Regions from separate parts of the Homo sapiens genome. Here all the other regions are linked to region 4. The links come from fine-mapping of genetic effects on gene expression. A gene starts in region 4. Each other region holds a variant in brackets. All regions are shown on one strand. Distances are between the middles of the regions.

What was found.
Region 1: its variant is fine-mapped to the expression of MGMT in whole blood (INTERVAL, PIP 0.92).
Region 2: its variant is fine-mapped to the expression of MGMT in lung (TOPMed, PIP above 0.99). The same link has a PIP of 0.9 or more in esophagus mucosa, fibroblasts, skeletal muscle, subcutaneous fat, sun-exposed skin and testis.
Region 3: its variant is fine-mapped to the expression of MGMT in whole blood (TOPMed, PIP above 0.99).
Region 5: its variant is fine-mapped to the expression of MGMT in anterior cingulate cortex (GTEx, PIP 0.95).
Region 6: its variant is fine-mapped to the expression of MGMT in whole blood (INTERVAL, PIP 0.97).

The regions. Positions count from the first base shown.
Region 1 is chr10:129,705,506-129,710,577 of GRCh38, reverse strand. It overlaps MGMT (O-6-methylguanine-DNA methyltransferase), which reads right to left. Exons shown (of 5, transcript NM_002412.5): 3 at 2,535-2,683. LOC105378560 (a long non-coding RNA gene) reads right to left here and starts at 2,528. Exons shown (of 2, transcript XR_946467.3): 1 at 1-2,528. The variant G/A (reference allele first, on the strand shown) is at 2,650.
Region 2 is chr10:129,634,002-129,639,060 of GRCh38, reverse strand. The region is part of intron 2 of MGMT (O-6-methylguanine-DNA methyltransferase); the gene reads right to left. Among named protein-coding and RNA genes, the nearest start is that of MGMT, 170 kb to the right of the region's middle. The variant G/C (reference allele first, on the strand shown) is at 2,911.
Region 3 is chr10:129,653,938-129,659,009 of GRCh38, reverse strand. All of the region lies in intron 2 of MGMT (O-6-methylguanine-DNA methyltransferase), which reads right to left. Among named protein-coding and RNA genes, the nearest start is that of MIR4297, 190 kb to the left of the region's middle. The variant G/A (reference allele first, on the strand shown) is at 2,450.
Region 4 is chr10:129,464,562-129,469,633 of GRCh38, reverse strand. MGMT (O-6-methylguanine-DNA methyltransferase) reads right to left here and starts at 2,393. Exons shown (of 5, transcript NM_002412.5): 1 at 2,338-2,393. RefSeq lists silencers at 2,094-2,293, 2,314-2,753 and an enhancer at 1,605-2,527.
Region 5 is chr10:128,834,024-128,839,095 of GRCh38, reverse strand. No RefSeq gene overlaps it. Among named protein-coding and RNA genes, the nearest start is that of LINC02667, 76 kb to the left of the region's middle. The variant A/G (reference allele first, on the strand shown) is at 2,274.
Region 6 is chr10:129,603,138-129,608,209 of GRCh38, reverse strand. The region is part of intron 2 of MGMT (O-6-methylguanine-DNA methyltransferase); the gene reads right to left. Among named protein-coding and RNA genes, the nearest start is that of MGMT, 140 kb to the right of the region's middle. RefSeq lists silencers at 3,452-3,541, 3,622-3,701 and enhancers at 4,195-5,072, 4,874-5,072. The variant T/C (reference allele first, on the strand shown) is at 3,170.

The DNA of each region.
Region 1 (5,072 bases), 240 kb before region 4:
CAAACAGTAAAATCCATACACCTGGCCCCTGCCCAGGAGTAAACGATTGAGCTAAATGTTAAAAACCTGGCTTACACATGCTGTGGTGGGGAATCCCAGCCCCCACAGCAACCACTAACCATCCGCAGGCAGGCCTGGCCCAGGGGACTCCAGCCCCTACCCTCGAGAGAAGGCCCTGAGCTCAGCACCCTGGGTCTGCAGCCAGCCTCAGAGTTCTAGAACACCAAGAGAGAAGGATGTGAGCGGCTGTCGCACTACCATCCCAAAACTTGGCTGGAGTGGACCTCGTCCCAGCTAGAGGTATCCACCCGCACTGTAGGGCTTTCCAAGAGGGGCAGGGCCACGGGGGAGCCAGACAGCCTTTACCAGTATCCTGGCGGCTACTCTGAGGTCTTCCTGGTCACCAAGACCTATCATGACCTGCCAGCCCAGGAAGCAGCCTGGCCTGGCGTGGGCTGAAAGCCAGGGAGGCAGGGGTAGGTGTGGCCAATCCCAACTCTGCTTAAGCACTAGGGACTTGACTGAGAAGCCCCAGGGGCCCGCCTGTCCTCGGCTCTAGGAGCAGCAAACACTGCCATGGGCAGAAGTGAGGGGGAAAAGGCTCAGCGGGGGTTCAGTGCTTGCAGGGGTGGTTTGGAGAGTGTCTGATTATTTCCGGTGCCACCTTCCTTGCTGGCCACTCCTGCCCTGGAGCTCCTGTCAGCAGCTGCGGAGGCCTCCTCCTCCGGTTCTTCCTGGCCTGCCTGAGAGCACACCACTCTCTGGACCCTGGTGAGACCAGGCCAGCAGGGTCTAGCTCCATGGCCAGGGCCACCATATGACTTGGAGAAAACTAACGATTTTCATGGAACTTTTGCCCCTATGTTTTTCATGAAGTTGCCCAACAAACCTTAGGTAAACTTCAGGGGTTTGCAGGCTCATTCTCCCAGCCTCCATATGATTATGCAGATACCTCCTGCCCTGGTTTTGTAAGAGAACTTTTCTGTCCTGAGACCTTACATTTCAGCTCACATATTTCACAGGCTTAAGGAGAAGAAAAGCCTCTGGACAGCTCTTCAGCCTTGCTCCTCCTGGCAGGCGAACCCCCAAAAAGAGATCGTATAGAGAAGAGTTCACCACTCTAAGATCCCCAAGCCCCAACTTTAATAAACAAAACCAATCTCTGACTTCCTTGGGCCATTCAGCAACATCCTGCCCTGTGCCCGGCCCATCAGGTGCACAGTGAGCAAGGTCCCCCACACCGTCTAATTGGCTCACTGGCTTGTGGCGCTGGGGAGAGGTGGCCCCCAGCTGGCGGCAGCCCAGGAGGCTTTGGTAGTGCCTTTGTCCTGGCAGCAGCCCATTGGTGGGCAGAGATGATGAGAGGTTTCTTGGACGTTTGTGGTTCCATGTAAAGGCCCACCCACTCTAGCTTCCTATCTGCCCATCCTAGAGATCCCCACTGAACCCTTCTGGAGACAGTTCTGTATGATTCAGAGGACAGCAAGGTGCCTGGTTCATTATAGCTGCACAGCTTCAGTTCATTATGCACAAAACGTGCTCATGACTTCATATGTTCGCCTGTCTGACTTGGTTAGTGAACTCAGGTATTAGCCCAACCTTCAGGGGTTTCTTTACCTGCTTCCCTTGAAAAGTTCTCTCCATTTTCAAGTTTGTTTTGTGCTGAGAAGCACCGCAGCAATTAGAATACTGTTAAGCTTACCCAGCAAATCTGATCTGAAATTCAAAATTGCTTTAAATTCACCACATCTAAAATCTCAAGGTAATTTTTCCCTTTAAGGATATATAAGTGTACAACTCCATATATACATCATATATGAATATATGTTCATTTATACACAAAAATGATTATGAAAAACTCACTATGCAAAATAAATTTCTGGCATGTGTCTGGAATGATTTTAGTTGCTGTAATTAATTTCTGTATTGAGCAGAGCCAAACACAAGCTTTAAAAGAAATGTCTGGGAAATGTTTTAGATTATCACAAGCCTTAAGCAGGCTACATACAGGTAAGTTCTCAAGTCATCTCTTAAGAAAGAATATGTCTAACTCTGGTACGTTTGAGAAATTAAATGTAAAATTATTTGAGAAGCTCCAATGCTGCTACCTGCTATGATGTAAGTGTCACCAACAGAGTGTATGGAAATAGCTAAATGTCCACGCACAAGTCTCGTTTTCTGTGCTGTTGGCAAGCAGATAGTTGAAGTTCACAATAAGCTTATTGAAAAATTTACTGCCATTCAGATGTGTTCCTATTTAAACCTTTCAGCCAGCGAGAGTCAAGAGTCGATCTGCATGCTTCATTTTTATTGCCTTTGCCAAGAATTATGCAACCCTGTGCCAAAACTAACACAAGTGTTGGAGTGGGTGGAGGCGGCGAACCCCCGTCCCTCCAGCTCGGCCAAACGCTGCCTCTGTTTAGCTGATGTAAAAATACCAAGTTGGTATACTCAATAAAATGAACTGTGATGTCAGCGATCGTTAATAAGTCAAGCTCCCCAAAGGAAACACCGCAGATGGCTTAGTTACCGACCTTGCTGGAAAACGGGATGGTGAAGAGCCGGCACGGGGAACTCTTCGATAGCCTCGGGCTGGTGGAAATAGGCATTCAGCCAGGCTGTGCACTGCATCAGGGGCTCCGGACCTCC[G/A]AGAACCGCAGCGGGGGCTGGGACCTCCACGGCACTGCAAAAGTGAGAACAGGGGCTTAGTAAACCTCTGGGCCCTGCCTCCACACATCGGAAAAGCAAACACCTACTGCATCTAAACGGGCAAACACCTGTGGCTGCTTCATGGGCACACACGTCTCAACTAGCTGTGCAGCAGAAAGGGGGACTGGTGAGGCAAGGACGCACCGAGGCCCCGCAACCACTCTCCACCTTCAGGCCTCCCAGGACGTGTGTTCTGAGAGTCTGCATCACAGCGCAAGGCAACCCAAGTGACAGTGTCCCTTTGTAAGACTTACAGATGGCACGGCTGCACCTAAATCATCAAGCACTCACTATTGAAAACAGTTCCCAGAAATATCGACACAGTCATTAGACTGCACCACACGGCCCACCCCACCCCGAGTCCAACAACGCAAGGCCACATCCACGCGTTCTGCCTCCTCCATGGCCGTGTGCTGTGTTCAGGGGATTCCTCAGGGTTTACCTGCAGTCCCCTGATTCCCACGCTCCAGAGGGCCTACTCTGTGTTTCCTTCATCGGTGAGTCTGTCCTCTCGGGGGCAGCCCTGTGCCTCGTGTGCCTGTGTCTACTTGGTTCTTTCTCAAACCTTCCTGGTGTTTGTTTGTTTGTTTTGAGACGGAGTTTTGCTCTTGTTGCCGTGGCTGGAGTACAATGGCTCGATCTTGGCTCACTGCAACCTCCATATCCCGGGTTCAAGTGATTCTTCTGCCTCATCTTCCCTAGTAGCTGGGATTACAGGCGACTGCCACCACGGCCAGCTAACTTTTTGTATCTTTAGTAGAGATGGGGTTTCTCCATGTTGGCTTCATCACGTTGGCCAGGCTGGTCTCGAACTCCTGACCTCAGGTGATCCGCCCGCGTGGGCCCCCCAAACTGCTGGGATTAAAGGTGTGAGCTACTGCGCGGCCCTCTTGGTTCTTTCTGGACACTCTCCTCCCTTTGATTTCCTGCAGTTTGAACCTGTACCTCTGGGAGTCGCTTCAGACTGTTTTGTGGCTGCTTCTGTTTGGGGTGTTCATTCATCTGTGGCTTCGACCTGGTGGGCCCTCATGGAAAGGATTCCCCATCTCCAGCAGGGGTGGATTTTCTGGGGCTGTGTTCCACGGACTGAGGACATGGCCCTGAAGGGGAGGTCTCCCGCTGCCACCTGGGGCTGTGGAGTGCATGACACATCCCGTTGTGATTTCAAGTGCTGTGGACCCCCGTGGGAAGCCCTGGCCCTGGGTCCGATTTCTTCAGGTGACTCCCTTCCTTCCTTCCCTGCCTCTCGAGGCCCCAGACAAACGGCATGCTTCCCCGGGACTTCCCAGGCTTGGAGCACGGAAGTTTTCTAGTTTCCTTCTGCAGACAGTGCTGCTCCTCAGGCTTCTGTGAAAAGGTGGGAAACGTCACTGCACTGTGGATGCTGTGGACGCACAGCTCCCGCGGGCCCTTCACCCTTCCTTCCTGGGCTGCCTTGGGGGGCGTGCGCTGAGATCTACAGAATGTTTCTCCTCGACACACCCATGCTGCTCTGGGAGGGTCCCAGTGAAGGCTTCACTTGCCTGGACATGTGGCCCAGCACAGGCGGCCGATGCAGCCGGGAGCACCGTCCCAACTCTGTCCACACAAGGTATGCACGGCCAGTCCATGGAGAGGAGGCAACAGAGCCATCCCGGACGTAGGACAGACAGTGTGAACGTAGACGCAGAGTGGAGGCCTCGGGGACTGAGACTCACAGAAAGGTGGGCAAGGACTGTGCGTGTCAGGGCGGGAAGGGCACTTTGTCCTATGAGTGCGGCCCACAGTGTGACTGGTGGGGGCTGGGGGCCCCTGGCAAGAGGCAGAAGGCACCGCAGCTGCCCTGACGCAGGGCTGCAGCAGTAAGAACATGGCAATGGTGCAGGGAAGAGCTGGAGGACCATGAAGCTGGGGTCAGGGATGACTCTCAGCTCCAACCCCAGCTCTGTGCGGATTCAGCCTGTCTGCCCGGCCCTGTGTGGATGGGGCTGTTGCCCTGGCCCCGTGCTGATTCTGCTGGTCTCCCTGGCCTTGTATGAATGAGGGCCTGTCTCCTGGGCCCCGTGCAGAAGGGGACCTGTCTCCCCAGCCCTGTGTGGATGGGGCCTGTTGCTACCGCTGGTGTCCAGGAGGACCACAGCCCCGGAGCTGCAAACAACTGGCATTTCACTTTGTATCACAGAATTGGAGGCTGTTTTAGAAAAGAAGATGTAGTCACAACTTCTTAAAACACCTTCACACAAAGAGCTCAGATGATCTCTGGAGCGATTAGTTCTCGCTTTTCCTGTGAGGTAAAAACCAAGCTTGTACAAATCTGAATAAAGTCAAAAGTACATAATGAGGCAAGAGATAAAAGGAAGCCGAACACCTTCCTTATAGTTAAA
Region 2 (5,059 bases), 170 kb before region 4:
ATATTTTCAAGAATACAAATTATTTTTGTCATTTATGTTTTACTCTGTTAATCTATTTTACTTGTTTTGTTATTGTGTATTCACCTTTTCTATCTCTAACAAGGCTGTTAGTCTTAGAATCTATTTTACATATCATTATAGCTATGCCAGTTTTCTTTGGGTATTTTCCTGACATGCTTCTTTCCATCCATTTACCCTCAAAGTTTGAAAGTCCTTATACTTTGGATAACCTTTGAGTGGCGTATATTTGGATTTTATATTTTATTCCATTTTTCAGTCTTTTTCTTACTGGTGAGTTTAGTTCATTTACATTTATTATAATTGTTAAGGTGTAACTTTTGAGGCCTTGTGAGAATAGTTTTGCCAAGCCCTCATATTTTAAAGTTTTAGCTGCATATAAAACTCTGTTCTAAGTTATTTTCCTTTAATACGCTGAAAACATGCCTCCATTCTCTTCTTACATTCAATATTGCTGTTGACAAATCTGAAGCCAATATGACCACTGGTTCTTTATATGTGTTGTTTGTTCTTGCTAATGTTTTAGATTTTTCTCTCTATTCTTAAATTTCACTGTGCTCTTCTAGATAGACGTCAGTTATTTTTCTTTTTTTTTTCTTTTTTTTTTTTTTTTGCCTCTTTGGTCCTCTCTTGGACTTCTTATTCTTAAGTCTTTCATGTGTTCTTAATTCAAGGAAATTTATATCCATTATTTCTTCAACTACTTCTTCCTGGAGGGAATGTAAGATGGGAGACATCCATCTGTTTTTTGAACCATTGTTCTTTAGTTCTCATGGGACTCATACAAGATAAGTAGCCCACCTCTCCACTTCAGGAAAGCTGTATAACCACCGGGTTGAGTTCTAAACCGTTACAGATTGGTGTGTCTAGGAAATTTAGATGAAGTTAAGTGAAACATGTCACATGTCTCCTTTTGAAGTACATAAAGCAGGAATCCTGAGCATATGTTCCCCTTCAGCATGAGCCAGCACCTGCCAACTGGGAAAATGTGCATCTACCTAGAATTTCAGCCTGAGACCAGACTGAGCACTGCAGGAGGCACTCACTCTCCCGCGAGTGCAAGGCTGGCACTTGCTGAATGAATTTGCTCAGGCTGCCATAACAAAATACCATAGACCGGGTGGTTTAAAGAACAGACATTTATTTTCTCACAGCTCTGGATGCTGCAAGTCTAGGTTCAAGGTGTTGGCAGAGTTGATTTTCTCTGACGCCTCTCTTCTTGGCTTGCGGACGGCCACCCCTTGCTGCCACTTCACATGGTCATCTCTGTGCACAGAAGCCTATGGTATATCTGTGCCCTAATCTCCTCTTCTTATAAGGACACTAGTCAGGCTGAATTAGGGCCTATTCTAACAACCCCAATTTAACTTTAAGTACCTGCTTAAAGGCCCCATCTCCAAATACAGTCACGCTCCGACGTACTGAGGGCTAGGGCTCCAACATGTGAATTTGGGGAACACAAGTCACTTGCACAAATCTGAGAGTGACAGCCTCCTTCGATCCTGCCCCCTAGGCAGATCTCTTACCTCATCTACTCTCAGCCCTCCTAAAATCGTAATGAAAATTCATTTTCAAGTGGTTCATTCTGCCAGAAATTAAAAACAGAAACCAGCCTGTGTTGAGCACCTACATATATCCTGAAGCATGATCCCAAGTCGTCTCCATTACTCTGGATGTAGGAATTCTAAGAAGGAGAAGAGCCCCATCGCACAAGAGGGCCTTGGCTTTGAGGAAGGCCCTAAAGTCAGAGGACAGGGTGGGCCCATCTGCACTTACACCAGGCTCCTAAGACACATCCTTTTTCCATTTACAGCAGTTTTCTATTCAAGGGGCACTAGTTCTCCCTGGGAATGACAAAAACACTCTTGAAGGCACTCATTAAGAGGTGTGAACTCCACTTACACCCAGTGGAGCTTTTCAGATACGCATTATGTTACTTGTCACACCACACTAATTAGTGACAAAAGGTGCTTCTGCCTAAACAGGTCATTGAAAATGTAAAATATGTGAGAAACAAAAACACCTTTATTCAAGAGAAGCAACCCTTGGAAAATCCAACAGGTTTATAAAGCCTCTGACTTAGACAACTCGAGTGTGGCTGCTCTTGTCAATTTAAACTCGGCTCTATAATTAGAAAACAGAACTTTCAATGTTCATTTAATGAGTTTAAAATCTAAAGATACTTGAATATCATTAATTGTAGACTATTTTTCAATTGTATAATTCTGATTGACTCAAAAGATTATATAATTTATGTTCACATACTTTTTTAAACATTTTCTCATAAATGCAAATATGAAAATGGCCTCATTAAAGAAAGAATAATATAATTTCAAAAAGATCTTTCATTCTGGGGGAAAATGGGTATCCACAAAACAATCTATAGAGTTCACAGGAAATCAACAGTGGAATGCTGAAAGCTTTTCCTCTAAATTTAGTAACAAGACAAGAATGCCCATTATCACGACTTCTATTCAAAACTGTATTAAAGGCCTAGCCAGAGAGCCAAGACAAAGAAATAAAAAGTAAAACTGAAACAATGACTATCAGCATTAAGGCCTTCTTTCAATGACAGTTGCTTAGAGGTATGATTCACCCCAAACTGGGCTATAAGCATCATTGCAAAGACCCCTTTTCAATGATGCAAATGAGAAGAATCTCTTCAGAGCCAACATTTATTGAGTGCTTACTGAATACTAACCTCTGTGCTGGTTATACGTGAATGTGTTCCACTCTTACAGCAGTCCTGAGGGGGTGTCTACCCACTTCTTCAGGAATGGTTCAGAGGTGACGATCTAGACCAAGGTCAGTATCTCCGGCTGGACTCGGGTGAGAAAATACGAGGCACTTTGGGGGTTTCTACACCACAAAAATTTGTAACCAGAGCAAAGT[G/C]TTGTGAAGGTGAACGTTGTACTTCATCCATGAATTTCTGAGTAAGCACCTTATAAATCTTAACTAACTTGAGAAAAAAGAAAAAGAAGATAACTCAGAAAACCACATTCTATCTTTTTTCAGTTCAAACATATTGGCCAAGAGCATGCATATTTTAAACTAAAAATATGTAAATTTTCCAGTGCCTGTTTTTTGCCATAGAGAACACACATCCACTCTTGATATATATTCTGGAGTGATTACAGCAGGAGCTCCTTGCAGCTTGATTAGGAGAATCTGTCTTATTCTCATCTCTGACAGATGCAGGCCTGGTCTTCCCGTACCAGCTTGTAAGAGGGTCCTCAGTTTACACTGTGAGAGTCCTTTGGAAGTAACAGACATGTCTGTCTATTGCTAACAGACATAGGTGACCACTAGTGGCTCCCTGCCTCAAAAAGTGCTATCGATGATCAGAAAGTTTAGGGGAAGCAAATTTCTTTTTAAAACTTCATGTAAATACTATAATAGCACAGCTTTAAATTATGTATCTTACAATTATTTTTTAAAAAACACCCCAGCACTTCTGTTTCCAGGCAAGATAAAATAAGTAAGAGACAAGATTGACCCTCTCACCAAAAAGAACCAAAAAGAAAAAATAAATTAAATAGAACACACTTTTCAAGAAACTGGAGAGCAAAGTACAGAGACAGATGAGTGACAGAAAACCAAGGAAGAAAAGGCTGCGACTGCCCTGAGAGTTCCGGGCACCCGGAGGGGCACACAGGAAGGGCCTGGCCAGCTCCCAAACTGAGGGGATGGAGCTGTGAGCCCGGAAACCAGGACAGGCAGAGTTTGCAGGACAGAACTGGAGGGACAGAGACACATCTCAGAAAGAGGAATCCTGAGATCTGCAACAGGTCACCCTCACATATTCATCAGAGTACTGATGGGCACCGCCATGTCAGGAAGCTCCCCCAGGCAGGAAAAGAGCTATCTGTGAGGATGACAGGGTGGTAACCGCTGCTCTTGCAGGGCTGGGAGCATGACTTTTCCTGACAGCCACACTGGAATGCCTCCTATTCACAGACCATCCGGGGCGAGCTGAAAAGGGGGCTGGCCTCAGTACACTGCTCTGGTTCTACCTAACGAATCTTAAAAGCAAGACCCAAAAGAGTCAAACTATTCCCAAGTAATTTAACTGTGACTGTATCCCAGAACAAAGCTCAAGGAAATCTATCAGAATGCAGAAATAACCAGAACTCAACAAGGTAAAATTCACAATACTGGACATGCAATCAAAGATTACCAGGCACACAAAGAAGCAGGAAAATATGATCCATTACGAAGAAATACACCAGTCAATTGAAATGGACCTAAAACTAACTCAGATGTTAAGATTAGCAGACGAGGATGCAAAAAGTTAATGTAACTGTATTCCAGACATTCAAAAAGTTAATTAGAATTATAGAATATAGTAAAAAAAAGATCCAAAGAGAACTTTCAGAATTAAAAACTAAAAAAACCTACAATGGAAAAATACATCAAATGAAAATAATAGATTAGACACTGCAAAAGAAAAAATTAGTGAACTTGAATATATTCCTATAGAAACTACACAAAATGAGGACAGAGAAAGGAAATCAAAAGGAAGGAAGAAAGGAAGGAAGGATTATCAGTGAGGTTTTGAAAAACTTCAGGAAATCGTACATATCTGTAGTTGGAGTTTCTGAAAGGAAAAGGAAAAAAATATATTTGAAGAAATAGCCAAAATATTTTCCAATTTGATGCAAACTGCAAATGCACAGATACAAGATGGACAGTGAAACCAAGTAAAAGACACATGAAGAACTGCACCAAGATGCATCACAATAAAATTGTTCAAAAAATTGATAAGGGGCCTTACAACCTACCAGAGGAAAAAATCATGTCACACAGAGGCACAAAAAGATGAGGATGACAGCAGAATTCTTAATGGAAACAATGCATGCAAGAGGGCAGTGTAGCAAAATCTGTAAAGTATTGGGAGGAAAAAAACCCTGTCAATCTAGAATTCTACACCCAGTGAAAATACCTTTCAACAATCAAGAAGCAATAAAGACATTTTGGGCACTAAAAAACTGTAAGAAGTCACCTGCAGTAGACCAGTGCAATGAGAAAGGGTGAAGGAAAC
Region 3 (5,072 bases), 190 kb before region 4:
CCACAAAATCCAAAGCTAGTGTATTAAGATAACATTGAATGGTACCTATGCCACAGATGGAGCTAAAATGTATACAAGAAATTACAGCGACACCTGGGAGGCCTTGAATGCTACAGCTTACAGTAGCCTACAGGGGGCGTTTTCAGCCTTAGGGTTGGGCACGCGAGCTAAGGGCGAGAACAGCAGTTAAGGACACTGAGGAAGGGGCCATCTAGGCTTCAGGATGTTTGTAAACAGGCTGGAATCCAGCTAGCCAATCAGGTTAATACATTATGACACAGAAATGTGGTGTTAATTTCATTTCAATCAACTAAACTTACTTTCTTGCGAAGATAATTTCTTCCAGGACATGTCAAATCACTGCAGAACTCCAGGATGTGGTGAGCTCCCTTGCTTTTAAAGAGCAGGCTGGGCTTCAATTCTCAAAGCATGATATTAGATATTTAGATATGTGAAAAACTCACTGACGTTAATGGGAATAACATGGACTTTCAAAGCAAGATTTCAAAATGTTGGGGTTAAAAATCCTACTGAATTAGAATCAAATAAGTCTCTAAGAAATACTGGCAAGCTAACGCAGTGCATACCAGGCGTGCTCTGAGGGTCACCTGTCATTCAGCATTTTGGTGTTGCTCTCAATGCATATTTTATAAAACAAATAGAGTAGCAAATCCCTGTGTCTGTTTTAAGGTGGCAAGGCAAGGCGACGCTGTTCGTCATTAGTCAATAATAGAGCTGTGTTAGTCTAATGGTGCCGCTCTCCCTCCCTTGCAGACCTCCAGGGCAATCACCTGTAGAATTATCCCATCTGCTGCAGCGGGAGCCAGAAGCCCGTCTTCCATTTTAGTTCCTTACTTGGGATTCATAGAAGGGGGAAAAAACTCCACAATTAGGTCTTTCAAGAAAAAGAAAAGAAGCAAAAACAAAACAGCATAATAGGACCAGGGAGATCACCTTTAGGTTTTGAAAGACCCCCAGAGATTTGATGATCTTTGGGGGATGGGGGAGAACTACCAATCTCAACACCACATTAAATATACATTTACGAGAATTTCCTCAGCCAAAGAAAATAGGATAGAGGTGCCAATTAGGGAAGGGCCGGTTCAGGCTTTGCACTCATGGGATGGGGGCTCCTCACTGGAGGGTGGCAAATCCTCCCATTCCCAGCATCTCCATGACAACGGGGGCCTCATGAAGTCAGGCCACACTGCTAAGGGTCAGTGTGATGACTCCACACACGCTAAGAGGCCGCAGTCCTTGTGGGTCCTTGGGGGAGAGGGGGTGTGTGTGTGTGTGTGTGTGCGTGTGTGTGTGTGTGTGTGTGTGTGTGTGTGTTGGAGGAGCTGGCCAGCCTGTCCCCCCCCCAGCTCCAGCTCCTCCTCCAGGCTGTCAGAGGCCATTTCTTCAGCAGTCACCACATTTAAAACTCACCCCATCCCTCCTCCCTGCTTTAGAATTCTCCAAGACACTGACCAGCACCTGACTTTGAACTGTATTTTACCTGTTTCTTCTGTCTCACGCCTGCCCCACCTCCACCCCCAGACAAGACAAGGGGCGCCTCAGGGCAGGGTTTATCTGTTTTGTTTGTTGCTCCCCCCCCCACCCCCACAATCCCTAGAATGCAGGAGGTCCTTGCTAAGTATTTGTTACATTAATTAAAGGAAGCTGGTAGATTTCTGGCCTATTTCACAATTACTTGCCAATAAACAGTCACATACATGTGTATTCCTGAATTTTCAATGGAATGCATCAGATGGGTAGGAAAATCCCGATTCGAAGCACTTAAAACCAGCATGAGGAAAGGAAGCTAAGGGACAGTCGTCTGTGTCAACTCTGGGCAGGTAAACACACTTAAATCCCCAAGACAGGGTATCTGTCCCCAAATGAAACACAATTTGCAGTCTATGGGATCTTTTACAGTTACTTAGAACTTGCTAAGTGGTTGCAAATCCCTAGCCTAATTCATAGAGCTCACCTAACTCACAGTCATTGTGGCAGCTTTAGATGTCTTAGAAAATGAAGTGCACTATTTTCGCTGCCTTCTGCGTGGAAGTTCTTTTGGGTTAAGAAGCCCGAGAGTTGGGTCTGAGACGTGTGGAAAAACCCTCCTCCCAGCATGAAAGGAGAACCTTGGGGCCCCCAAATTACTAATCTAAAGGGGAAAGTCAAGCTGGAAACTGCTCAGGGCCAACCTGCCTCCCGTTGTATTCAGTCATCCCTCTGCTCACAGAGAGAAAGACATCTCTGATTGCCTCCTTTGGAGAGGCTTATCAGAAACTCGGTGCAACCACTTGACTCTCACCTACCTGTGACCTGGAAGCCCCTTCCCTGCTTCGAGTTGTCCCTGCCTTTCTGGACAGAACCAATGTACTTCTTACATATATTAATTGATGTATCATGTCTCTCTAAAATCTATAAAACCAAGCGGTGCCCCGACCACCTGGGGCAC[G/A]TGTCATCAGGACCTCCTGAGGCTGGGTCACAGGCGCATGTCCTTAATCTTGGCAAAATAAACTTTCTAAATTAACTGAGACCATCTCAGATATTTGGAGTTCACACCAGAAAGGACATGCCGATGCTGCTTCCAGAGGCCTGGAAGTAGGCCCCACCCCTCCTCACCCTGCAGGAGGCAGTACCAAGGAACTCCCAGGGAGATGCCCAACCAGGAGCCCTCCCATGCTCGGGGCTGAAGCCCATGTTCACTGGGCAGATAGTGGCCACAACTGGTTCCCAAGAGAGGGGCTCTTGCTGCCCTCATGCCATGGATGTTTGTCACCTCCCGACTGCAGTCCAGACTCCACTGAAGATGAGTCCTGGGTGACAGCTTACATAGAACTGTAGTGCCATAGTCCTGAAGGGACTCCAGGAGGGGCACCGCACCAACTACCTCACCTCTCCTTGGCCTTTCACCTGGGTTCCCTGGAATCAACAGTCTGCATCTGTGATGTGTCTGGTTAATTCAGGGGTTGTCCGGTGAAGAGCTTGGCTAGCTGACCCTTCTGAGACCTTAGCTCAGTCCCCAGGCCAGGGCACCTCTGACTGCTGCCCGGCTAAGCTATCTGGGACCGCTGTTGCCAGTTTATTTAAACACGTGGAACTTCTCATCCACGTTCTTTCAGTGCAAAATCAGTGCCTGCTCTATATGGACACTGTGCGTTTCCTCCAGAAACACATGCGCTGTGTGTTTACCATGTGCTTTTGCAAGATTTAGAGAGCATGAGCATGAAGAGAAAATCCAAATCCATCCAAAGTGAAATTCCCTCCTGCTCACGTAACGACAACCCACAGCTATACTGAGGAACAGCTCCCTTCCTGCCTTCACTGTTAAACAGTGATTTTCATTTATATTTTTCTCCTTTTCAAGGGATTACAAAGTGTTTTACAAACTCATCCCTGTTTGTTTATGCCAGTCCCTCAGCCGGGCGAGTCACACACGAACATGCACAGAAGCCACGAGAGCTCTCCTGCAAGGGTCACAAGGAGACAACAAAGGTCTGGACGTTTAAAACTCAACGGGGAAGATTTTCCTGCTCTCCCCACCAGCTTCCGGGATGAGGCCCTCTAGAAGCGTCAGGGTCAGCGCCTTGGAAAATCAGACCTTAATGGGTTTTAAAAATGGTAATGTGTGAAAGAAATGTGTCTTCAACTGAGTCTAAAGACAGATAAACATTGACTTCCAGCCATGCAAACCACTTCTCCGCATGCTCGGAGGCGGCCCCTCCACACCAGGCCAGTGAGGCTGCTCAGGTCTTCACTCCTGGCAGACACACAGGAAACCACGGCAGTGCGCAGCCCTGCATCTGCCCAGGCCCTCCGCGGGGCCCCCACGGGACTGTGTCCCACCCCTACACTGGCTGGGGAATGGCTGCAGTGCTTTCTTTCCATGCATACCTCCGGGTGGGTGCACAAACGTCCTTAAACCAGGAGCACCTCGGTAGTGTGCTGACACCAGGGATGAGGGTGCAGCGGTCACCCTCTCCATCGAGCCTGAATGGTTTCCTCCCACTGCTGCTCCACAGGCACTTCCTTAGATGCAAGGAATTTGCAAAGACCATTATAAGTGATTTCCACTGATTTTCAGTGGGAAATCCCACTTCTCTGAGTTAGAAGAATAGTTTTCTTCTCAGGCATTTGTAGAAACAAGTGACCCACTGTGGCTTGTGCCGTCACATTCCAAATGCCCATACAGCCCCCCACCCTCAGGTATCACGTGTCATGACAAGGGGCCTAAGGTAGAGGTATGGGCAGGAGGGGGCCCTTGTCCTGCCTGCCAGGGCCAGACAAGCTTCCCGAGACCCCGGCCACCTTCCTCATACCTCAAGAGGCTTGCACACCCCTGCCTCCTCCTGTCTCTCCAGGGACTTACCCACCCATACAGGCCCTGTGCTCCAGGCAGCAGGTCCCTCACAGCCCTCCAAGCAGCCAGTGGGAATGGGGAATGCCCTATCTCAGCCCCCGCTGAGGCTGGTGTCTCGATCTGAGGTTCACAGTGACGGTCAAAGGATGCAGGCTCAGAGTGAGCAGGGGTATGTGATTTCTGTCCACTTAACACAATACCAAACTACATACTAAGGCACAGAAGGTAAAATATGAGCACCTTCTCTTCTACCACAAGAGGCTTCAAAGACATGGGAGAGTGTGGCAGGTGCCCGACCCCGCGTGCAGGTCCTCCAGGTCCCAGGCCTGTCTCTGTACCCGACCTGGGCACCTGCTCCACGCCCTGCACCCCTTTCCATCCTCGCCCTTCCCCAGCATGGATCTTCAGGTCTCTCTTCTCATGAAGCTGAGGTCTTGCCGTCTTCTCGGATCCCAAACCACAGATGGGCTACCTCACCATCCAGCTTCCCACCTGCATCTTTATCAGCACAGCTACTCCAGCTGCAAGGCGGGGGTCGGCGAGGCAGCCACCGAGGTGGGCAAGGACAGACAGGCGTGGAGGGTGCAGTAGTAGGGTGTGGCCCTCGCTCTGGGCCAGCTGTGCCCAGCACAGGCCGCAGTCTTGTCAAGGGGGAGGTGGGGTCTCCAAGCAGGGGTCTCTGAGGGCCACCAAGTTCTCCCCGCATCCCCAAAGGTGG
Region 4 (5,072 bases):
CAGGAAGGACCGTAGCAACAGCCCAAGAGCCGAATGAGCACAGGGCCCTGCAGGGTCTGGGAGGCTCAATGTGTCCCCTGGAGGGACTAGAGTCCCAAACGGAAGTCAAAAATCTCAGGGCAAGTGGATCTGGACATGGAACTTTATGCTGGGGAAGGGGGTCAGAATGAAGTGCAGAAACAAGAATAATGCTAAAGGAAAAGATAATGCAGAAAATTCAGTTTTGCCTCCATTTTTTTTCTATCAAAGAGAATATACTGAAAAGAGCATTAGCACCAAAAAGAAAAATGGAAGGTCTGAATCACTGGCTCCTAAATGTGTGTCCTCTGCAAAACAGAACAGACAATTTAGTAACTTTATTTTATTATAAAATACTGAAAGAGTCAGGGTTTTGGTGTCCTAAGAAAGGGTGGGAAGAGGACTGGAGAGGAACAAACTCTGAGGGGGCAATGGGGAAGGCAAGTTCTTTTTCAGGCCCTTCCTACCCCCTTCTTCCCTGCAAAAGGACAGAGGAGGCCCTGATTGAGACACCTGGGGAGGAAACCCAAACAACGAAAAGTAAGGCCCAGGTGATATCAAAGTAAGACCTCAACAAGGTTCAAGAATCTGAGCAGCTGAACAAGGTGCTACCCAATGTATACCTAGGGCTCTATTTCTTTCAACCTTACTAACAGCAAAGCCTTTTTAAAGTAGTGCCTAATACTATTAGTTAAATCCTTATTTTGATACAGATTTTTTTGTTTCCCCTTCAGGACAGTTTCACTCTCGTCGCCCAGGTTGGAGTGCAATGGCGCAATCTCGGCTCACTGCAACCTCCGCCTCCCAGGTTCAAGCAATTCTCCTGCCTCAGTCTCCCAAGTAACTGGGATTACCAGCATGCACCACCACGCCTGGATAATTTTTGTGTTTTTAGTAGAAACTGGGTTTCACCATGTTGGCCAGGCTGGTCTCAAACTCCTGACTTCAGGTGATCCACCCACCTCGGCCTCCCAAAGTGCTGAGATTACAGGCGTGACCCACTGTGCCTGGCCCAGATTTTTTTTTTTTAATGAAGATATATACATTGAAAAGTACCTGAGTATAGCTCCGTACTGGTGGTCTACTTCATCCAGGCCCCTGACTGTGGCAGACACTACTCCACTATTCAAATTCCAACCCGAGACAGAGGGCCCAGGAAGAAAGACACGCGGCAGAGCAAGGCCAGCTCTCCTCTGCTACTTGCAGGCAGACTCCGGGTCTGGGCAAGTATCCTGGCCCTCTGAGTTAACGTGATATTAACAATCAGCCAGGCTCTTGACGCGGTTTCCTTCAAAGTTTTCACACCCCCACCCACCAGGTGCGCTAAGCTTTGGGTTTTTAAAATCTTGTTCATCTCCCAGAGTGTTTTAGCCATTGAGAGGGCCCTGAAAATAACAAAACCATCTCCTAGACACCTGCCCAGGGATGGGGGAGATGACGGGAGAGCCTGACTTAACAGATACTCTATAGGTTTCTATTTGGATGTCTATGTAAATAACCAGTCTAATTCTCAGCTCTCTGTGCTTAACATTCTACTGAGAACAGCTCTCTGGACCAAGCCGCTTCCCTGTCTGATGATGATCTCAGCAGGCATAGGTTGCACACACATGTACAAAGTCTGCTTTCCAGGACAGAAAGCCAGCTACTCAGCTGAAGCAACTGAGAGCAAACACCACCCTGAGATTTCAGGAGATGATGAACCCAGGAGTGCGAAATACATAGTTCAGAACTCCTCTGCGGTGTTATAACCGACATTACGGTGCCCAGTGTGTGTGGCTCTCCAGCGAGCCTTGCTTACTCTAAGTGTTGATGAATACAGTTAGGGTATGATGTACACAAACACCAGCCATAGTAACCAGAAGGCCCCTAGAACTTGGCCTCCAGCAGGAAGGAAATATGGGACTCTGCCTAAGTATGCTAAAGGGTTGCTGCAAGCCAAGGCCCGCGCAGGGGCTTCTGGAAGCTTCCTGGAGCAGCTGGCGGAGGGAAAGCTGGCAGCATGGAAGGGTAGGAAGAACCCGGGGCCCGGGCCTGGGGCTGGCACCTAGAGGTAAGGCAGGGGCTGCCACGACCCCCGCCACACGCCAGTCCACAGTCACTGCAGCGCAGCCTAGTCCAGGAACCCCAGGCCCGGGGAAAGGCTGGGCAACACCTGGGAGGCACTTGGGGCGCACCTGGAGCTCGCCCGGGATGGGTGGGGGTCAGGGCGGCCCCACACCCGACGGCGAAGTGAGGGCGCCTGCAGGACCACTCGAGGCTGCCACCGTCCCGAGGGAGAGCTCCGCACTCTTCCGGGAGCGAGGCGACCCAGACACTCACCAAGTCGCAAACGGTGCGCACCGCGAGGACCTGCGGGCGTCGGGACGCAAAGCGTTCTAGGGGCGCGGGCTGTCCCAGCATATCCGGGGCGCGGGGGCGGGGCCGAGGGGCACGGGGATGGCGGCGTGGGGCGGGGTCTAGAGCGGGGCGGAGCCGAGGACCTGAGAAAAGCAAGAGAGCGCGCGGGGGCGGGGCCGGGGCGCGCGGGGGCGGAGCTGGGGCGGAGCCCGGGAGGGGCGGGGTGTTCCCGCCCGACCGGGTCGGCGCATGCCCTGTGCGGCGGCGCCGGGCCTGAGGCAGTCTGCGCATCCTCGCTGGACGCCGGCACGCCGGCCCTGGTCCTCCGGCAGCGCCGCTGCCCTGTGCGCCTGACCCGGATGGCCCTTCGGCCGGTACAAGCCGGGCGGCGCCTTCCCAGCTTCCGCCTGAGGCTCTGTGCCTTAGTTTGCCAAATGGCCCGTACCTTTTCCTGTCACAGGGATAGTCCGCGGGCGTGCAAGCGACCTGCCACGTGCCCGAGTGGTCCTGAAAGCGCGCGGGGGTCGTAGGACGGCGCCCGCTTAGTGAGAATCCCGGTCCTGCTCGGGGCGGCTACGCTGAGCCCGGAGCGCGAGTCTCTCCCCTCCTGGTGCCGCTCCCCTAGTCAGGGACCCCCAGACCAGCAGAGACCCTGTCAGGGGGCCGTGGGGGCAGCCTCCAGGGCCTGTGGTGGGCGATGCCGTCCAGGGGCTGCAGTCACCGATGGCCTAGACACTGCCAGAGCCTGACTCAGCCGCTCTCCAGAGAGCACACAGGGTGCCAGGCCCTGCTTGGGGTTGTGTGGACGTTATTAGGAGTTGAATTGTGTCCACCAGAGAAGCTATGTTGGAGTCCTAACTCCCAGTACCTCACAATGTGACCTTATTTGGAGATGGGGACTTTACAGAAGCCATCAATTAGTGGGCCCCTCATCCAGTATGACTCGTGTCCTTATAGGCAGAAGGCCGCTTGGGGAGGAGGATTGGAGGGCTGCACCTGCAAGCCACCAGAAGCCTAAGAGGACAGACCCTTCCCTGGAGCCTTCGGAGGGAGCAGAGGACACTCTTCCCTGGAGCCTTCAGAGGGAGCAGGATCCTAACACACCTGGGTTTCAAACTTCTGGCCCCCGGAAGTGTGAGACAATAGGTTTCTGTTGTTTTAAGCCACTCAGTGTGTGGCACTTTATTATGGCAGCCCCAGGCAATGGGTACAGAAACCATTGTCTCTAACGTGGTTGGCATAAGCACCCCAGGGAGTAGTATCATCCCTGGAGGCTTCGGAGAGGTCACACACCCCTTGGCAGGATCCCATCCAAGGCCCACATGTTCTAAGCCACCATGCTACGGGCCTTCTAGGTTCTGTTTGTTATCTTAATGGAAAGGGGTCTTCACCTTCCCGGTGAAGTTTCCCTGTTGGGATTCGGCCAATGCTCATACCTTCGTATTTGTGACTTGCAGGATCCAACATATTAGCATGAGTGATAAGGGTTGTTCAGAGGAGAACTTCAGCAGGATTTGCTTTGGGATGAGCCCTGGTGACAATACAGGCTGCATCATTGATCCTCTGAGGTTCCCCACCCCGACCCTGCCTTGGATGAGACATGTTTTAAATAGCTGCTTGTGGGAAATAAACTAGGCCCTGAGTACACGATATAATGGTCAAATCAAGGCACTTTTTCCCCACTGAACCTGGACACAGCCTCGGAATCCTTCTCAACACTGTGTTCCAAGCAGCCATTCACATTTAAACTAATGTGGAAGGACAGATGAAACATGTTTGCCCTTGGCTCTGGTTTTTTCCATTAGCCTTCTATAAGACTTCGGGAAACTCGTCTGACTTCTCTAATCCTCAGTTTCATACTCTGTAAAGGAGTCTCATGATAACGTACCCTACGTGTGTACAAACTATCCTTCCATATTAGGGCATGTGTGCATAGGGAAAATAAACCACCAGCACCACACCACACTACTAAGAAATAATGCTATACACCTGGCCACTTACAGCCTGTTACTACCAGGACCCAGTTAGAACCGGGATCTTAATAGAACCAAAGGAAAAACAATGCCGAAATGGAATCAGAGTGCCGACTGATATTCTAACAAGTGTGCTGTTAAGTAGTTTTGCAGTTAACACATGACTCATACGTTTATCTGAATAATATTTTAAGACGAATCCCTAAACTCTTAAGAAAAAGAGACTGGCCAGTCTTAGCATCTCTAATTCCCCACCCTAGGAAAGAAAGGCCAATGTGGTCATCCAAAGGCCCTTTAGGAGGGCCCTGTGGGAATGGGGAGGCGGTCCACGAGAGAAAGTGCTGGCTTCCCAGGGAGATGTGTGGACCTGGCCCTGGCTGTACTGAAAGAACTCAGTCCCCTTGCTGGCGTGGTGGGAAGAACTATGTGAAGGGCCACAGCTACTTCAGTGGTAAGGACTGTGTCAGGGGCTCCAGGATCAGGAGCCAAATAAGGGTCTCAGTGCAGAGGGGAAAGAGGAAAAAGGCCACCACCTGACCAAGGACTGGCCTGCAAAAGACCAGGATTCAAGGATGTGACTGCTTAGGCTGTCTGATGAGCAGAACTCAAACTCACACTCCTTACACCTGCTGGTGCAAGCTCCTCCCTTCATCATGGTAATTTCAAAAACCCAAGTTTTCATCAAGAGCTCCCCACGCCTCTCCCCCTTGTCCCATTACAATCTCATCATCGCCTGTGTGTTCG
Region 5 (5,072 bases), 630 kb after region 4:
AGAGAAGCTGGTGGAAAGCTCTCTGCTTTTTCTGTTTAAACAATTCTCTGCAAACTTTATGTTCCCTAAGTTTGCCAAGCCCCAGAGCTTCATCCATGTCTGATTTGAAAAGTGGTGAGTTTTACAGAGAAGGGAAAGCAGAACAAAAGGAAACATGTCGCTTTTGTATTCAGCTGTGGACTTGCTCTCCACTCACTTGGAATATGGCACCTAGAGGGTAATCTGTTTGCAAATGGCCCTGAAGCAGCCTGGCCTCACCGTGATGTTACCAGCCCACAGATGCATGAGGGAACACTTGCCAGCCACTTGGGCCCTGGTGGTAGAGGTGGCACTGGCTCCCACCAGGCTGCCCTGAAGAGCGATGGCAAACTGATACTCATTCACTCCTCCCACTACTGGCCAGGTGTTAAGTGCTCATTGTGGCTTTGTTTTTCCCAAGATGGCTTCATCTTGGATGCTTCCAAGTAAGCTTGGCTATGCTGCCTTGGCTGTGCTGATGTGGGCCTATCATCAACGTCACCAGCACCATCCGGGGATACTTCCTGTGTGCCTGTTGCCAACTGTTGCCCATTCAACAAATGGTCCTTTACTGTCTGCCGTGTGCCAGGCCCTGTGCTAAATACTGGGTGGATGGCCACGCACAGCCTCCTGGCTCAAGGAGCATGTGCTGCAAGGAAGCAGAGAAGCACAGTGTTTCCAAATAAGACAAACTGAGCTATGCTGGAGGGAAGGACTAGGTGTTATGGGGCCAGGAAGGGGAGCACAGAGGTCCAGCCTGGCAGAGGCATCCAGGAAGACTTCTCAAAGCAAAAGGGAGGAGTCAAGATGAGCCAGGTGGGAGGAGACAGTGAGTTCAGGGAATTCTCCAAATGTGGGTCCAAGGTTAAGGTCAGATGTTAGGAAGGAATCTTCCTCTGTCTTTCCCTGACTGGGACCCAGCTGAGGTTTTGGATTCCCTCCTGTGGAACCAGTGGAGAGTGGGACAGATAATGTTCTCCTTGCAATGATCCTCTGTAGGTTCACCTTAACTAGCCCCTCAGAGGATGTCCTGCTTGCCCTGCATTCCACCCTGTGCTGCCAGGAGCCCCTAGAATCAAGGCCCAGGAAATCAGCCTGGTTCAATCTGGGGCACCGTGGATCCAGAACAGGACCCTCCTGGATTTGATTCGGCTTGGCATCACTACACAGTCGGGGCCTTTGAATATTCTTTTATCTAATATTATTCTATTTATTCATTTACCTGACATTTACTGAATACTGATTAATGATGACGATGATGCAATAGAGAGATAGATAGGTAGATGGATAGATGAATGGATAGATAGATAAACATTAATTGAGTCCTTATATGTAAATGTATTAGCCCAAAGCCAGACACATGGTATTTATCTCTTTTAATCCTTACAACCATTTTGTGAAGTCAGCATTAAGCTAATTATGCAGAAGGGAAAACTGAGGCTTAAAGAGGTTGAAGTGACTTCCCTATACAGCCAATCAATGGTGAAACTTGGATTCCGTCCCAGGCAGCTTTAACTCCAGAGAGATGGAGATGGGAGTGCTTTCTTGGTGGAATAAACCTGCAAAGGTTCAGAAACAGAAGCTGAATTTAGAAGAATGGCAAGCGGCCCAGCATGGCTGATCACAGGCCCAGTAAGGAACTAAAGCAAAGAAGGCTAGAAAGGTGGTTTGGGGAGATCAGGGAGGGCCCACAACGCTACACTAAATAGTTTGTTTTCCTCAGTAGGCAATGGAGAGCCACTGATACTTTTGAACACAGAACAAAGTTATCCTCTAGGAAGGTTAATGCTGGGGTATATCAGTGTGTGTAATTTTGTTTAAAGCACTTTCATACAAAGATCAAATGCGAAACTAAGTAAGATGCTTCATCTCACACTGAATATGCTAATAAGAAATGCATGGTTCTGGGAGGTCTGCTGTGTTCTCCTGGGGAAACCCACACTCCAGAGCCAGCTCCCACTGGCATTTCTATTACCTTGATCTTGATCAATATAACCAATGATCTCACAGCTAACACAATCTGTCCATCAAGCTAGGCTCAGCAACCCCAAGATCTTTGGCATGTACTGTTGTAAAACTCATTTTTCACCTGTGTGAAGCCTGCTGTCCGACAGCGGCTTCCTTTGTCCTGCCATTCTGACGTGGGCTTTGCATGGCTTAGACCCTTAGTTCCCACCAGACAGCCAGGCACGCCTTCATATTTCCAAGCTGCCTTGGACTTCTGTAATCATAGGGAAAGACGGAAAGAGTAGCAC[A/G]GTGATCATCCATGCACTTGTCTCATGCATCTGATCGTTGTTCGTATTTCCCACATTTGCTTATCTCAAGTTATTGCTCCAGCTGAATCTTTTAAAAGTGAGTGCAGGCATCATGCCACACTTCCCGAAACACATCAGCATGCAGCTTCCAAACACAAGGACTTTCTCTTACATAAAACACCGTTATCATAGGTAGGAATGGTAGTAATAATTCCCTAAATTCATCTACTATTTAGCCCATACTTAAATTTCTCCAGTTTTCCTCAAAATGTCTTTGATGGTTTTCTCTTTCAGACAGAATCCAGTGAAGGACCATGAACGGCTTCTGGCTGTTGTCACTTCTGAGTGTCTTTTGTCTAGAGCATGTCTCTCCTATTTTTTGTGTGATGTTGTTTTGAAAAGACCAGGTGCCTTGTCTTATGCAAAGTCCCACTGCAGAGTTTCTCTGATGGTTTCCATGTGGTGGGGTTTAACATTTTCTTCTAGCCTCTGAATCTCCTGTAAACAGAGGTTAGGTATAAAGGCTTGACCCAAGGTAAATATGTTTGGCAAAAATAGCTGGACTTCGTGTGGTCGAACTTCATGGGCACAGGACAGGTTTCCCCATCACTACTGAGGCTGCTTAAGATAAGAACTGCTATATTTTTTCATGATAAGTGTGCATCTTTCCATTAGCAATATATGAGTGATGGTTTTAGTCTCTATTGATGGTCCTTTCCTGAGTCGATCATATTTTGGGTGAATGTAAAATCATGACTTTTTCAAAAAAGGAATGAGTTTATATTGCAAACTCATTTTGCTACATAAAAGCCTACACTGTCATTTTACTTATGATCTTGTACTTTATTTATTATTTTGGTGTTTTACAGGGAAGTTTCAATACCCCCTCCTCCTGTTCTCTGAGATGTGTCCAGTTGTGTCCCTATGCACTTCAAGAGTGACTTAGGCTATATAGCAAAAAACCTTTCTGAGCTAATCGTGGATATTTTCTTGTCCCTGAATTGTTGGTTAATTGTTTTGCAAGTAGCTTCAGTTCCTTTGATTCGAAGTGCAGGGCAGAAAGCAAAAGAAGTTTCAGAAAAACTGCCTGCCAGTCTTTAGTGCACCAGCAGCTAGCTTGCCTGTGAGCAGCAGGAGATGCTGGGCAGATGGGAACATCTCCATGACTGGAGGAGCTGGAACTCTGCAGTTCTTCTCAATTCATGGGGCTCCACACTCGCTTGGCTCCTGCCCTGACCCTGGGAGACAGAAAGACCTCGCTGGAGGACAGCGGGTGGGGCTACTAGGGAGGCTGGACTCTTGGCATCAACCACAGGTCCTGGCGTGGGGGGTGATTCCTGTGCCCAAACTCCTTGGAAGCAGCAGAGCCACTTGCCTCCAGGACCTTTCAGCTGGGCCTTTCTCTGACTTCTGGCGTCACCAAGCTCACAGGATTCTGGTGCTGCCCCAAGAACAGAGGAAGGGCTCTTCGATGGCTGAGATTGAGCACCCTGCAGTAGGCAAATTTGGAGCTTGGAGTGGGGCCTGTGATGAAAAGGATGCAAAATGTGCTGTCAATTTCATATCTCCCCCTAAAGAATCATATACACACAGACCTTGAACGGAACTTGAGGAATGAACTACCCCAAGCCCCAGTCTTGGATACACTGTTGAGTGACACATCAGGTTGATTGACCTGCCCTGGTGCTGCCCTGGGCTGAAGGGGCATAGCCCCCACTTGTCATCATTGGGTGCCAAAAGTCGGCGTGTCCAAGCTGTAAGGCATGAGAGAGATGATGCATGCCGCCCCCTTCCTCTTCCAGGGTAAAATGGAGGCTGCAGAAATGGCACAACTTGGCTAGGAGAACTCAGCGAACTCTGGAGAGGATTGGCATGGACCTGGCATCTCGCTTCTAAGCCCAGAGCTCTTTAGGCTACACCACACATGGATCAGTCTGGCCAAAGATGGGGAAGAAGAGCAAGAGACCACCCATCTCCCTGATGAAGGGTCCCCGAAGCCTTGGGTCCATCAGGGAATATAGAAAGAGCAGGCTGATTTGTTTGGAGATGTGCCTCCAAGCTCTTAAGTTACAGAGTTCTAAATTCCAGTCATTACCACTAAACAATTGTTATTGGGGTTTAACCATATAGCCCTCTAATCAGGGTATTTCTGCTTTTATTTAATGGAAATCATTTCCCTGTGGCCCTGAGGGAGCAGGTTTCCACGTGCCCTGTCAAGGTGAGTGTGCTGGTGCCATCTGCCACTCAGAGGCCCAACAGTCCAATATTTTTTTGCCCAGCTGTGCTATAGTGAGTACAATAGATTTAAGGAGGGTTAGAAACCTATTTCATTTGCAATAAAATGCCTGGGAGGTAGACCTGGGAAAGTGTAGCCAGAGGCCCCTGGGGCCCACCCTCATGGAGTAATGTTTGGACCAGGCTGGAAGAACTTGGGAACACATCAATAGCTCTTGTCCTCCCCTCTACCCCTGCCACCTCCTCTTCTTGTTTGAGAATTCGACACTGATCTGTAGTCAGGACTCAAAATTAAATTCTTCTGCATTATTAAATTGAGTATTTGGCTTAATATTTAAAAATCTGAGACCAGTTGAGACCCAAAAGCACTCCATCAGTGCCTTGTGTTCCTATTGAAATTAAAAGCTTGGTGAAAAAAAAAAATGCAGCTGAAGGCTGACTGCCCCATGTTCCCTGATGGCCACAGTCTGTTTATGGGTCTCTGAGCATCTCTTTCCAAGCTCGTGTTCTAAGCTCCCTCAAGCCTCCTGAGTGTATTCACCAAAATGGAACTGGAAAGTGCCA
Region 6 (5,072 bases), 140 kb before region 4:
TGAGAACGAATTATGACAAGTCATTTTTTGCTCCATATTGCAAGTCAACGTGGCAACCCCGTTTTTTTTCTATTATAAACATGTACTATACCCTGGCTCCAAGTCGTTTTGGATGCTGATACAAGATTCATAATGGCTGTCAGAATCTGCAATTTTCCCTTTTGTTTTATGAGGTCAGGCAATATTACATGCACTGATATATTCCATTTTCCCAGCTGAAAACCTTCTCATTTGAGCCCGACAGGTTGAGGGAGTCATGATTTGGCAACCTCGCATGTGAAACACGGTACGAGGGGGCAGGTGGCTAACCCCACGTCCTCCTCTTGCTCTTGTCCACTGGCAACAGTAAATTAAACTGTCAAAAATGGAATTGTCCTGTCATCAACAAAGCTATAGCTTCACAAGTATTGCAACATCAGATATATTTCTAATTCTGCATTTCCCTGCACCTGTAATTTCATCAGAAATTCGCACTGGACCATGGTGAGCAGCTGTCCAAGGGAAACTGGCACTGCGAATTCCTTTAGAGGGTTGACATGGCATTTCAAAGACAGAAATTAATGAACAATTCCAGCAATTTGTAATATATATAAAAAGGGTGTTCAGTGTGAGGTCCTGACCTTCAGCAGGACCCTTTAAAAGGGCAGAAATGCTAACGTGGACATGACATGCTGTGCGGCACAGTGGAAAGAAATTACACACAAGTTACTCTGCAAACAAAACAAAGCAAAACACAAACACCCTGGCAGCAGCCAGTCCACTTGAAAATTACTTAATGGTCACAGAGTCAATTGGCCTAGACTGCTATTAAAAATGTTTAAGATCAGGAACATACTTCTTCAATGGTACTTAGGTAGAAAGGAACTTCAGCCCTTAAGTTAAAATGTTATCCGACAATCCATCTTCCAAAACCACTCTGATTTCTTCCAGGTAATTCTTCCCGGGATATTCCTCCAAGAGAAAAAAAAAAAAATGACTGCCCTCTTCCTTCTGAGGATTTACGCGTGGTTCTGATTCTCCTTCCACCATGGCCTACTATGACCATTTCTGCTGGCCCGGACTGCACTTCCAAGAAGTTACTCCCTTGTAAGTTGAACAAAAGTCAAAGCCATCTCCACCTACCTCCCAAACCGGAGGGTGCCAACTCAGAACTCTTGTGAAGCTACCATAGGGCAAGAACCCTCTAAGTTGTCCTATAAATTTGCAGAGAAAAAACGGGCTTTCCCAGCCCATTTAAAAACAACATAAAGTCACAAGTCTAGTTGTTATTAAATATTGCAGTCAAATACTGTTATAGATTATTCCTACAAAAATGCATTGCTTATCAAACATTATGCTCAAGACAGAAAGTTAAATTGAGATGAGGAATCATTTCACAGCTTAATACAGTCAAAGTGACTCAATATTCCTTTATTAATTCTCATTTAATATCACTTTAAATTGCTGCCATTATTATCCCACCGTAGACGAAAGATTCTGTGTAATTAGTCTGTATTAAGCCCTTTTTATTTATAAGGAGCCAAATAAACAAACCCACTTTAATTACCGGGGCTCCACAATATTGATCTGAGCATCAAAATTTAATATGACTTTATTTCAAATTTCCATATGACTAGTATTTAAATTTCTTCCAGCAATAACAATTTTGCAGGCACAAATGACTTTTCATTCAAAGTATGTAAATTACTGCCTAGCGCCGGGTGCGGAGGCCCTCGGTGCCCACAGCATGTTTACAGAGACCTCAGGGGCCTCCCCGCTGCACGCTTTGCTCCCTAATACGGCAGGAAAAGCCACCAATTACCAAAAGAGACAAAAGTCAACGAAGACAGGGAGTCTTCTCCCTCCCAAACCGTGTTCTCTCCCACTTCAGTACACGGTGTTAACGACATACAAATTTTGAGGTCATTAAGTATAAACAGGAACGGAGCGCCAGACAGGCAGGCAGGCAGGATGTGCTCACGTCAGCATTTCAAGTGCCCTCCTAATCCCACAATGCAAGTTTCGGCATTATTGTCTCAATTTAACTTGCATTAGTACCTAGCACCTTGATTACACTGTTGGGTGGTAATCTTCGCCTGCACATGCCATCATTACTTATGTCAAGCCTCTTGAGTTGTTATGAATACTACGTTGTTTTACGAGAGAGAGGAAATTAGTGCCAGTCCCCTAGAGTTTTGGGTGCTTAGCACAGAGGCACTGCGCAGCCCTCACAAATCCCACAACAAATCCTTGTTTAGTGCCAAATGGAGATAAGGACTTTGCAGCAACATTGGAGCATAAATAACTCATGTCCCTCTTTATTTGTAAATGTCAAAAAAAAAAAATCACCGTTCTTGAATGTTGCTTTTCACACACACACAGCACAACGGGTGTTTTTGGCCACGCAAGCACATACCAGTTGAGTAACACATTCCGAATTAACCCGCAAGACCAAGCTAATACGCAAAACAAAGAAATGTCCACAACACGTGTTTGAGAATTATCGTAAAATGCTGTTTGGGATGGATTTTTAATAAAAATGAACTTATCAAATTCAAGGGAAATGCACTGGTAACACAAGCCTTTCCTCGGGAGGACAATAAAGTGGAAAAAATGGGCTTCACATGTATTGCATTTTCCATGTTTTTTTTTAAATATGATCCACTATGTTGTTGAAAAGAATTATTTTCTGGTATTGTGGGGATTTTTGCATTGTCTGTTTATTCTGTTTACACAGCAAATGAAACCTACAATATGAATAAGTGAACTCCCTAGGGAGCACACGGAAGTCAGAAATGATGTACAGATGGGGACAGGGGCCCATGAAAACAGAATAGAAATTAATGTGCCCTCAACAGTCACATCTGGAATGGAACTGGCCAAATAAATAATTTTGACATTAAAAGAAATTAAAGATCAAGGACCGCAAATAGTAGAGTAAGTTTTTTAAAAAATAATATCATTAGTTTACACTATGTTTGAAATGGCATTTAAAATAAAATAATCAAATGTGCAGGCCAAAAAATGAGGCCTCGATGCATTTCCTCTTTTTCTTTCTTTCAATGGCCAGTAATAACCCATTTGAAACATCTTTCCCACAAAAGAATCTCCATATATTGCCTTCTTAAAGTGCTCTTATTTAAGAAACAACAAGATGCAGTCAAGTTTTTGCATCCTGAAATTGTTCATG[T/C]TTAATTTGGTAAAACATTAAAAGAAATCTCAGAAGGCAGACAGATAATCCTGTGCCTGCTACACAGCAGAGACAGTGGGGCCCCCATTTAAGGGTTCAACACCAAAACTGTGATTCCGTTCACTTCTTTTCTCTTGACCCCTCTGCTATCTTTATTGACGCAGCCCGAAGCAGACTAAACAAAAAGCAAAGGCAGGCTCTGGCAGTATCTTTTTTGAGACTGGGGTAAAGGTCTGTTGGAGACATCATTGTGAAAATGATAAAAGGCCTTGAGGTCACAGCCTGAAAGCCGGGGGGAGGGGGTGGGGCGGCGAGGTGGGGTGCAGGTGGGGCCTGCAGGGGCACCCCCTCCTCCCAGTGAACCACTGCAGCCCCCAACTCCCAAGACAGAGCCACAGGGAGCCACTCCTTTCACTACCCACACCAAGAGAGTGGCTCCTCCACGTGTCCTCAGATGAAGCCAATTTTGAAAAATGGCTTCTGACAGCCCCATAAAACTTGCATGGATTGACCAAATGGGTGCTCCTGAGCCCACAGACTGACCACAAGTCACACATCTGAGAAAGCACGTTTTCACGACTGCTGATTCTGTAAGTAAAGTCCTCTGGAGCCAGGGCAAATTCACCGCCACCAAATCTTCACCATCCACTGCATATGTAAAGAATTTTTTTTTCAGAAGATAAAATATTTTTCTGAGTGTAACAACAGGCATGACTTATTTCAGAATTAAGTGCTAGGCTCTCTGGTGCTTTGGGAAATGTAAACTACAATTTTTACTCCAAATCCACCATCCACTTCACTAGCTTGTGCTCTCCAAAGGCCCCGGCAGCCCCTTCAGATGATGAGCGTCGTAGAGAGTGCTTTGGTAAATCATGCAAACAAGGAGGAGGATGGAGACAAAGCCCTCCCTCTCCCCATTTCATACCATCAGTAAATTGATTTAGAAACTGCTTGGGGTAGAAAACAAATATCAAGCTACAAATGTATAGCACTGACTTTTGAAAAATCTGACCTCTGGCACCCGCAGACACACGCACACATCAAATCTTCTAAGAGGGCACCAGGCACTCCTACCCAGGCCTCCAGCCCTCCACTGCTCAGGAGGTAACAAAGGTGAGAACCTGCAAGAGGGCACAGGGTTAATATCTTCAATCTAGGAGTCTGAACAGCACCTCTGCAAACTACAGAGTAATCTTACTTTCAAATTACATAAAAATAACTGATTATTTTCAATACAGCCCTTAAATAAAAGAAAGTTTTATTCTTCACAGTGTAAGTGCTGGTATTTTTTGTGCCCGACAAGCTGCCCATACAAGAAGCAGTGTGCCTAATATTCTTGCCAACAAAGGCATTTGAAATTAGCAATTGCTTTTAGAAACTTTAATTACAATTTTAAAATGCTATTTCTGCTCTATAATAGATTCCAATTGTTTCAGTATTATCTGGCTTGCAAATAAAATCTACAGTAGATGACAATATTCCCAGGATTAATCACTCTTGAAATTCTAATATGCTCTTGAAATACCAAATAAAAAAGACAGCAATGTTGTTGATGTACTGAAAGCTTCTTGCTTTTTGCAGTTTGCTATTATTATGCATATCCAGGTAGAAAGTTAATTAACCCAAAGCTTAAGCTAATTATGATAGCAGAATGCTATCAACCCAACGCGCTCAGTCAGACAGCTGCCCGGAATCTCACTTGCTAATCATCTGTCTTTGGGCTGAGCATATGGTACATTTTCATGCTATCAGAGAAACAACAAACAGCTGAAAATCATTAACTAAAAACAATGTGCATAAAATCAGAAGCAGTTTTTTATACAGCTTTGTGTCAGACAAAAAGCCAGATCCTTGCCCTATAAAAATTAACGATTATTTTGGTTCTTGTCACTTAAAAATTTTA